Linked DNA regions of Homo sapiens: region 2 is linked to region 1. Evidence: fine-mapped expression QTL. Tissue or cell type: lymphoblastoid cells. Region 1 holds a variant in brackets; the other region holds the start of a gene. All regions are shown on one strand. Distances are between the middles of the regions.

Region 1 (5,376 bases):
ATAATCTCCAACATCCCTGCCAGTTATGAAACGGGACCATGAAGTGACCTCAAGATGGGTCTGTGTAACCACCCTGAGAACATTCAGGACAGTAACTCCAGGGAAGGAGTGCAGGCGGTAGTCCTGCCAGCTGCCCTACCAACCAAGGAGGCCACTAGTTAAGCAATGGGAGCAATCTCATCTCAGCCTTTCACTCTTTTTTTTCCTCTCTTGGGCTCTCTGGGCCTTTGTTCCTCTTTATTTACAGAGAGAGAAGCATTCTTCTCAGGGCACAAGAGAGAGTTTCTTCCCCACTCAGGTCCCCCTCCTCTGGGCAGACTAGAGGAGGAGAAACCTGCCATTTCTGGGGTATGAGTGATCCAAACACAGTGTGGAAACCCCCTGCATGGCTGTATTCCAAGAAAACACGAACACCATTTCATGGGATACTGTGTCTGAACACTCTGCATTGAGAAAAGCTCCCCTAGTCCACTTCACAGGAATGGTGTGAGCACCTGGGAAAAGCAGTCATGAAAAGGTTTTGGAAGACAAGTCTCATTGTACATAGAGAAACTCCTCCATGGTGTCAGAGGAAAAAAGTGAGCCTCTACTGGGTACTTTACAAAACAAAAAGACAGGGCATCTCCACTTTTGTGCCCCACAGGTACCGCAAACACAATATGCCCCAACCTGGATTCATCAACCTCCCAGCAGCCTCCACATTTGCTTTGTGATCTGGTTTCTTGGCCTCATCAAATGGCACCCACAACCTCCCAATTGCTCAATACAAACTCTTCCCTTCTGCCTGCCTACCCCTTTCTATCCTCACTGCCACTTAACTCCATCACCATCTCTTACCTGAATTGTTGACCTAGACTCCTCACTTATCTCCTTGCATTCAGCCCTGGTCCTCTCTCACCCATTCCCACACTGGAGCCAAAGTGATCTTGGCATAATTTCAGTTCGAGCACACAACTCCTTTCCTTAGAGCTCTTCAGTGACTCTTGGTGGCTCTCAACATGGAGTCCAAACTCTGGCCTGGCAGGCAAGGCCCTTTCCCAGCTGTCTGCCACCTCTTTAGATGCATCCCTCTCATCCTGCAGCTGGCTCTTCCCTCAGCAATCTTTGTCTCTAATGCACCCTGCTGTCCCTCCACCTCTGCACAGACTGTTCCCTCTACCTGGAATACTCCTCTTTACCCTCTTGGCCTAAGCCAAGCCACAATCAACTTTTTGATCTTTCACCTCAATTCCTCCAGGAAGCCCAATCCTACTACTCAAAGAGTTAAATAATGCTCTTTCATGCAAACTCTACCCAAGCAAAGTGTAAGTACTTCAACAACATCCAAGTGTGCCGTGCATCGTCTCAGCCAATCTGAAAAGACCCAACACATGACACATTGCACCATGCCAGTGGTACTCTGGGTTGGGAAAGAAAAATAAAGATGCTTGCATGGGCAAGTGACTTAATCCCCCCCAGACCTCCATTTCCTCATCAGTAGGTAAAGGGATTGGCACAGAATTCTGTCCCCATTATGCTTGTCATTGTCAGAAATACTTAAACACATCCAATCAGTCCTCGCAATGATATTTAGACATTAACCCTCTGGCATCCCCAGCCCTTCAGTCTCCAAACACCAACTGCAGTGATCCTGAGATCCACTGGTACCTTGGGTGGCATGTTCAGCGTGCCCTGTGGGCTGGGGCAGCGGGCACCTAAATAGATTTCTCCTGCACTACCTGTGCCCCCATCAACACAAAGGGCAGAAGGTCAGATAGAAAGCTACTCTTGGTCTCCGCACTTTGACTCTGGTCTCCTAGAAGCCCCTCCTATGAAATGGTCCTGAAAACTTCCAAAGAACTCCACAAACCTCAAAGAACGTGAAAAGGCTCCATCACCTACAAAGTCCTCAGTAGAATCCAAGTGACCCAAAACCCAGTTACTTACGGCTCTTTATTGCCATGTATGATATTTTAGAATTTATGCTAACATTTGTTTTGTGTAGGATTACAATAATAATACATGTGCCTGCTAGAAATTTTTGAAAATACAAGAGAAAAAGCACAATTATGCCACTTAGAAATGATTAACATTAACCTTTGTAGTCTTTTTTCTATGCACATATTATTTAATTTAGATCATAATATACATAGTTTATAGCTTGATTTTTCCCTACACCATTAAGTTATTTTGATGATAGCATAATATTTCATTACCACCATTAATTTAAGTAATTCCCCATCCAAAGAACTTAAGATATTTCAACTTTTTAAAACTTTTCTCACAGTAACATTATAAATAAAACTGTGAGAAATATCCCTAAATATATTTTTATATACCTTTTTTCTTAGGGTGGAGATCTAGTGTTTCTGCATTACGCTGACAAAGGAAAAACCAAGAGGCAAATAAAGAAAAACAAACCAAGGTGGCAAACATATTTTTTCCTCACACCACTGAAGAACCCATTCATACATGCTCGTGCTCTTTCTTAGAACTGGCCAAGGTTAAAACAAAAAAAAAAATGTCACTTTTTTAGG[C/G]CTATCTAATAGGCCAGGCTTAGCAAAAATACATTATAAAGGGGCTGGAAAATGTTAATTCTTATACTCTGCAGGTGGGATGGTAATATGGCATAAACTTTAGCGGGAGGAACAATATTATTTTTAAATATAGAAAATGTAGAATTTAAATATCCAACAATAAGGAATAAAGTAAATTGTTACATCTCTGTAATGGAGTACTTTATACCTTTACAACCCTTTCAATAAAAGGTTAAAGAATACCTACTGGCACAGTAACAAGCTCACATTATAACACTAAAATCAGGAAAAAAAAATCAGACAACACAGTGTGTTTCTGTAAACAAATAAAAAAAGAAGTGTATACAATCTAATACAGACACACAAACCACACACACACACAAACCACACACACACACAAACCACACACACACACACACACACACACACACACACACCTGGAAGGATCTACACCAAAAAGTCAACAATGGTATGTGGTAGGAAAATAGTGATTTTTTTGCTTCTGTCTCTGTGCTTTTCTGACTTTTTAAAGTTTTCAGTATTAGTGTTTATCATTTGTATCACATAAAGTACTATGTATTAATAGTGGTAACGGAAAACCTTATCAGATTGGTGAAGGAAATAAAGCAACACTAACTGAGGTTTCCGAACACAGGTGGATTGGTCCCATTTCCTGTCCCTCCTTTCCACCTCTCTGCATGTGGCCATACCCCTCAGGGGACAGAAGAAAAACAACAAGAAAATGAGCCTGTGACATTTCCCACCCAGTTTTGAAACTGAGCCGAGCAGCTGAAAAAGACTAGGATCAAAGAAATACATCATACCTGGGAGCCAGTGCCATATCCCAGGCTACTCGTCACTGATGTCTAACCCTGAAACAGTAGCAATGGGAGAATGCTTTACCTAGCTCCAAAATGCCAACAATGAGTAATTATTAGTAATATTGCCCCTGGGCCCCAGGAAGCCTCATCTCACATGGGGGTTGGGGGTGAAACAAAGGAGTTGCCCCCTCTCACAAACCAATCTGCCTTCAGCACACCTGGTACTTCACATCTGCACAGTAACTCACAGCCTCAGGCCCCCAGGGCACATTCCCAGGGGAAAGCCCTCTCTATGGACATAAGTGTAAGAGGAAACATCTCATGTGTAAAGAGAAAGGCATGGGGACTCAGATATGAGCCTTGACATGCCCATGTATTGAAAGAGCCAACAAGCCCCATCCCCAGCCAGAGAAGTAGAGGGGGATGGTAGCCCCGACCAGGCTGTGGTCCTAGATGTCTATCTCTACTTGCTGGCTAGCTGTGTTGCTTTATTCTAGTGTTCTAATGGCTCTGCCCCTCTGTGTCCTCATATGTAATACAGAAAATGCTAATTCTACCTATGGCATTGGGTTAGGATTATAAAACTAAAATAATATACATCACAAACCTGAGTCTAGCACACAGTACTCGGAAATTGGTCCCCTTTTCCTGTCTTGCCCTTGTCCCTGGAAAAGGGCAGGGACTCTTAACAGTTGGCAGGGACACTGTCCCCACCCACAGCAACCAAGTTTTCCCTCGCAGGGTGTCAGTGAGGGGTTGGCCTTGATATGAGAGATCTGTTTAGCCCACCTGGCCAACACACATAGAAACAGAAAGCCCATCCCTGCCATTTATTTTTCCATCTAACAGATTTTTCACAGACCTAGGAGGGACTTTCAGGTGACCTAGCTGACCTCCTCCCATCCCCACATCCCCTGACTTTACAGCCCTGACAGGTGACCTTCAGGGAAGGCCCCCGGCAGCATGTCTGGTTATAGTAAGTCCAAGCACTTGACAAACGTCACACCATTTTACTCTTGACATCTCCAGAAACAGGAACAATAATGCTGCCACATCTTTAACCGACAGGAAATCCACAAAGTCCTTTTGCAGAGGCTGATCTAAATTTCATTTCACTTTTTACTTTAAAAATTCTGTCAAATCCTCTCTGACTGCAGACAAGAACAGGTGTTCCCTTCGTTTTCAGGCAGGGTAATGGAGGCATGCTTGTCTCAAATGACCCAGCCTTTCGTTTCCCCCTCCTACTTCACCCAGGATGGCACTTGGCTCTCTCATCCTGGAAGGCATGCCGCGGCTCACCCATGGCAGCTCACCCATGGCAGCTCACCCATGGCAGCTATGGGAGTTTCTCCCTCCCCACTGCTTTCATTCTGGGCTGCACCTGAACCAGCCACCCATTCTTCCCTTGGTTGAAGCCCTAGCCAGAAATGGACCTTAGATTCAATGGCCTTGGTCGCTGTAGCCAATTTCCGCCCTGGCGACCTTGCTCAGAGAGAGGCTTTGAATGGTGCAGGCTCATCGCACTTTCCTCCTGCGGCCTCCGAGTCACACTTCAGACGCGCGTCATCGGAGAAGATGGAAGAACAGCATGTCGGAGCGGCTGACAGCATCACCACAGCTCTGTCTCTGCCCACTGCTCTGTCTCACCAGCCCGTGGTGGTGAGATTTCTCCTTTCTTCTCCACCTTCTGTCTCCAGCCCGAGACTTGTCAGCAGCTCCTTCGTGTAGCAAACATATGCAACGGGTTGACTTAAAAGGTCAATTGCAGCAGATTTGTGCGTGTTCTCTCACTCTGACGTAGAAGTCCCATGCAAGCCAAGGGAGTACAACCAGTCCTCGATGCAGGCTCCCCCTGCTCCAACTCCCAGCTTCTTGCTCCTTCACCACTGCCCCCATGCCTGAACAGTGTCTACGGCCAAGGAAGGACAGAACGTGAGCAGGCTGGGTGCCTCTCACCACCTTTTCTGCACCAGCTCGAGATCTGGACATGCATTTCCATCAAAGTTGCCCAGCAGAAGCCATCAGATCTGTAAGCCCCA
Region 2 (5,376 bases), 590 kb after region 1:
AATTGTAAGTATAAATGTATTCAATCAATCATTCATTCACTTAATAAGTACTTCATTTATCCAATGAATAATTACCAACACTCATTTAATATTATGTAACAGGTCTTGGCACTAAATGCTTTTGTTAATTCTCCAACTCTATGAGGTATATCCCATTTTACAGAAGAAGTACCTGAGTCATAGAGAGGTTAGGCAGCTTTGCCTAAATCATAAGGATTCTAGGTGCTGAAACCGGTCTTCAATTATGGTATATCTGACTGCAGAGCTCTTGCTTCTAAGCATTGTGTAACCTCCCTCTCAAAGAATCTCAAAGCAGTGTGATACATGCTTACACAGGTGTGTATAAAGCTCACAGAGGAGAAAGCAACTAATTTTGTGGGGAGGTTGGGGTTCAAAACAGGCTTCACAGTTGAAGTGGTTTGAGCAATCTTGAAGGAAGAGAAGGGTTGTCTTCCTGGTGCCTAGCACAGAACTTTGCATATGAACACTGTAAAATGATGATTAAGCGGCTTATGTTTCTGGAAGGAGTTGTTTTCCTGTTTACATGGAGTCTGGGGTGTTTCCTACTGCCTACTGCAGCATCATTTTTGTGATTTAGCAATGGCATGTGAAGTAATCAGATCATCTGTATATCACTGATGCTCACAGAAGCCTGTAAGGTAAGTAGTACAGGTACACACTTTGTAAGATGAGTGAGGAAACCAGGGCTGAGTTTGCATTACTTGTCCAAGACTATACATAGTGAGTAAGTGGCGGAACAAGACAAGGGGCCAGCCCCCTGAGGAGGGATCGGCTAACAGGACTCCTCAAATCTAGCCAGACTCCTTTACTCCTCTTAGCCTGCAGGTGAGGCTTTGATCTTTCTAGACTCGACACCCGAGTTTCTGAAGGTTTCCTCAGAACACCCTCCCCATCCTTCTCAGTTCCAGCTCTCCAAGTCCCGCTCATCTTCCAAGATCTGTCTCATTGCACATCTTCCTCGCAAGCCTTCTCCAGAGTCATTCAGCTCACTCCCTAAGCTTCAGTTAAATCCCTTAGCCCTGCTTCCATCCAGATTCCTGCCCTGAAAACTTTCTACCTGGTTAGACTCATCACTGCCATTCAGCTTCCCTCATCAGAACTCCTGTTGCCTAATCTCTCCAGCCTTAGGTTGGTCTTTAACTATTGTTTTCTTTCTATGTGTATATCTTGTCTCTCACTGAAATGTAAGCTCCATGAAGCACAGCCACATGTTTCCTTTTTAGCCTTATACATACAGATGTATATTCACTTTGGGATCAATAGTGTTTGTCAACTCAAATAGGATGTGTGGGATGAATGATCCCACCTTCTGTTAGATTATTCAGCTCCTAAGTCATGCAAAACCAATACCTTGTGGACCTCCTTTCTAAAGCTCCTGCAGGGTGGGGAAAGAATGCACGGATTCTCATAGGTGCATTTAGCAATTACTAGTAACCAACACTTAATGAATGCTTACTAATTGCTAGGTCCTGTACAAAATACATTACATACATAAACTTATTCAATCTTCACGACAACTATTATTGTCCCCACTGAACAGATGAAGACACATAGAGGTCACTCAGCTAGTAAGTGGCGCAGCTAGGATTTAAAACCCAGACCGACTCCAGAGTCCATACTCTCAATTATGATACTAAATTCTTTATGGATAACAGAAAGTCTCTAATTGTAATGTAGATCAATTTCCTTGCTTTCTAACCCCATGGGAAGATGGAACTAAAAGGGTGAGAAAATAATATTTATTATACTCCTACTATAAGCCTAGTATTATAAGAGGTGCATAATGGGTTAATGATATAATTCTTGCTGTAAGTCTATGAAGCAGGAAGTATTAACTCCATTTTAAAGAATTTGGCTTCTAAAGTGGTTAAACACAGTGCTCAAGTTTTAGCTTCCAGTTATTGGCAGAGTTGGAATTAGACCAGGTTTTCTAACTTTGAAGGAAAGACTTAATTTAAAGGAGACTGTATAGAAAACCCTGCCAAGGGCAAATGTGAAGGGCACGTGAAAAGGCATCTGAATTATTACTTATAATAATTCAGAAATAGTGAATGTGTGGCGCATATTGAAGAATGATGAGAGATTGTCAAAAAATCTATTCTATAAACACTCACAGAGGAATCAGCTAATTAAATAAGCGAGCTGCCTGTCTTGGGCTAGGACATAAACTCCAAAACTTCCCACGAGGCAAGGGCAAAGAGGGCGCCACCTGTCCTGGAGAACCTGGGAACCCGCTCTAGAGACTTCGGCTCAGCCCCTTTTATTTCCTCACACTCTAATTGGCTACTTTTCCCTGGGCTCCGCCTCCTCCTCGGTCTGGACCATTAAACAGGCAAGCCCTACCCCGGACCTGGATGCGGCCTCCAATCAGGTGCCAGGCCCTGGAGTCCCTCTAGAGAAGCCCCCTCTCCACCGGCGAGGCGCTTTGCTCTCGTCCGTGATTGGCCAGGCAGCAGCATGGGGTCCGCCTCCTTCTCTTCCAGATTGGTCAGCGGTCCTCAGGACCACATCCCTCTCGGCAGGTCCCCGCCGCTTTTTCCCTTCGCTGCGTGGCCTTGGCCGAGACCGGTCCTCTGCGGAGAGGGCCCCGCCCTCTGTGAAGGCCCGCCCGGGAATTGGCGGCGGCGCTGCAGCCATTTCCGGTTTCGGGGAGGTGGGTGGGGTGCGGAGCGGGACTTGGAGCAGCCGCCGCCGCTGCCACCGCCTACAGAGCCTGCCTTGCGCCTGGTGCTGCCAGGAAGATGCGGCCGGAGCCCGGAGGCTGCTGCTGCCGCCGCACGGTGCGGGCGAATGGCTGCGTGGCGAACGGGGAAGTACGGAACGGGTACGTGAGGAGCAGCGCTGCAGCCGCAGCCGCAGCCGCCGCCGGCCAGGTACGAGGGGCCCGCGCGGCGGGGCCGGGGTGGCGGTGTGGACTGGCGGAGGGGCGGCCGGGCGGGGCGAGGTCTCCGGGCCATCCGCTGGGCAATCCGCGGGGCGGGCGCCGTTCGCAGGTGTGGGCGGCAGTGTCCGGCCGCTGGCCCGACCTCCACGAGCCTGGAGGCTCAAGGACGGCTCGGGGGCTCCCCACCTCTCCGCGCCTGGAGGTCTTACTCCCGGAGCTCTGGGTTCTGCTCAGAGCTCCGGGTACTTTTCTCTGCCCCATTCTGCCAGAAGTGTGTGCTGTCCCCAGGGGAAGCGATGAGGGGCCCTTCGGACTCCAGTGGGAGCCGCCCAAGGGCTCCGGAGGGTCCCTTCTCAAACCCCTGAGGTTATTGCTTCCTTTTAAAGTCCTGCAGTCGTCCAAAGAAAACCACCCATGGGGTCCTTAAGAAGCAAAGAAAATTAGGCGGTGGTGTCAGATGGAAACACACCCAGCCTCTCCCAACCACATTCTGGACTACCACGTTCAGTCCCCAACCAGGACATTGGTCCATAGATCTGGCAGGGAATCCAAGCTGGTCCCTCGAAAGCATCATTCTCTTAACTCTGCCGGTGGTGAGACTCTACCCCAGGCTCCAGGTTGGATTAGGTGGCCCCTTCGACCCTTTCCTGAACACGAGTGCTATCACACAAGGGGATTGTTTAGCCTGGTGGTGACTTGCGATGACTCTATACTAATTAACCATGCTGAATCATCAACCAAGTTCAGGCAGTTCTAAAATATTTTGAAAAGTTCTAAATTCAAGACAATGCTTATTATCAACCTTACAGTGGTCTGGACTGACAGATATTCTGTTGAAATGTGTTTTTAAAGATGAGCTGGTTAAAAAGATGCAAGATCGGTGTTCCTGGAAGAGAGTGTTGCGATAATTTTGCAGTTGACTTTAATACGTTTAAGTCTTGTACAGATATTAAGGAACGCTTAGAAAGTACTCTGTTTCCCTTTAGCGGGAGTGTGACTGTTGCAGTTTGATAGGATGGTGATCTTAATTTGGCTTTAACATAACTACTCCCCAGATGAGTAGTTATGATGGATAGGTCTGTTACTGTTTGCTGCGAAGCAGAAAATAAAGCATTTTTCCAGGTCATGTTGAGATATTGAGACTGAGTTGAGGGGAAAAATAAGTAAAGCAGACTTGACCTCCCCTGAAGTTGTAAGGTGTCAAAGCGAAGTAATACACAGATCAAAAGATTTGTTTTCACTTTTAAAGAAATAATTGTGTGAGGGAGGAAGTGATAACAGTCAGCTCATTATAAGCAGTGGAATAGTTTGTCGTTTTCCTAGCAATGTAAACGACTTATAAGACAAAATTGTTGTGGTATAGAATGTAATAGGGAAATTTAACGGGTAGGAGTTAGAAAATACATTTGCAGGTGAATTTCATTGAGGTATGATTTTTTTTTTGTTTTTGTTTTTGTTTTTTTTTTTCAGACAGTTTTGCTCTTGTCACCCAGGCTGGAGTGCAATGGCGCGATCTCGGCTCACTGCAGCCTCCACCCCCTGGGTTCAAGCGATTCTCCTGCCCCAGCCTCCCGAGTAGCTGGGATTACAGGCGCCCGTCATCACGCCCGGCTAAATTTTGTATTTTTATTAGAGATGGGGTTTCACCATGTTGGCCAGGTTGGTCTCGAACTCCTGACCTCAGGTGATTGGCCTGCCTTGGCCTCCAAAAGTGCTGGGATTACAGGCGCACCAGGCCGAGGTATGATTTTTTTTGTTTTTTTGGTTTTTTTTGAGATGGAGTCTCGCTCTGTCGCCCAGGCTGGAGTGCAGTGGCGCGATCTCGGCTCACTGCAAGCTCTACCTCCCAGGTTCACGCCATTCTCCTGCCTCAGCCTCCCAAGTAGCTGGGCCTACAGGCACCCGCCACCACGCCCGGCTAATTTTTTGTATTTTTAGTAGATACGGGGTTTCACTGTGTTAGCCAGGATGGTCTTGATTTCCTGACCTCGTGATCCGCCTGCCTCGGCCTCCCAGAGTGCTGGGATTACGGGTGTGAGCCACTGCACCTGGCCGGTATGATTTTTTAAAATGAAAAAGGAAGTCAAGAGAAAGGTGTTCACACTTCAGCGTTGCTTTGTGTTCAAATGCTTCTTTCAATCCCTATGAGTTATGTTCAGATTTAGTAGGAAATCAAGGACCTTTCTCCCATAATCTCTAACAATTTAGCATTTATAGAATGATATTTCTTCAGAGCTTGCCAACTAATAAGGTGAAGAAATATCAAGGTACTAACATGACATTTTAAAATCTGTATGAATAACATTTGGTTGACTTTTGGGGACATGTTTTGTAAAAGTTTCACTCAAGGCACATTGGTGGCATTTGGAAGAACGGTCTGTTGGAATGCTGTGAGGGCTGCAGTATCCCTTCTAGAAAACTACTTCTCACCAGTATTTTTAATACAGACTTCAGATCTGGAGCTTTCTACA

What was found. PIP is the estimated chance that this variant, and not a neighbour inherited with it, causes the effect.
Region 2: it holds the start of SPTLC2, and the variant in region 1 is fine-mapped to the expression of SPTLC2 in lymphoblastoid cells (GEUVADIS, PIP 0.95).

The regions. Positions count from the first base shown.
Region 1 is chr14:78,201,381-78,206,756 of GRCh38, reverse strand. All of the region lies in intron 1 of NRXN3 (neurexin 3), which reads right to left. Among named protein-coding and RNA genes, the nearest start is that of NRXN3, 34 kb to the right of the region's middle. The variant C/G (reference allele first, on the strand shown) is at 2,517.
Region 2 is chr14:77,613,966-77,619,341 of GRCh38, reverse strand. It overlaps SPTLC2 (serine palmitoyltransferase long chain base subunit 2), which reads left to right and starts at 2,705. Exons shown (of 12, transcript NM_004863.4): 1 at 2,705-2,894. The coding sequence starts at 2,763. RefSeq lists silencers at 2,279-2,338, 2,669-2,718, 2,859-3,058 and enhancers at 2,378-2,910, 3,239-3,448.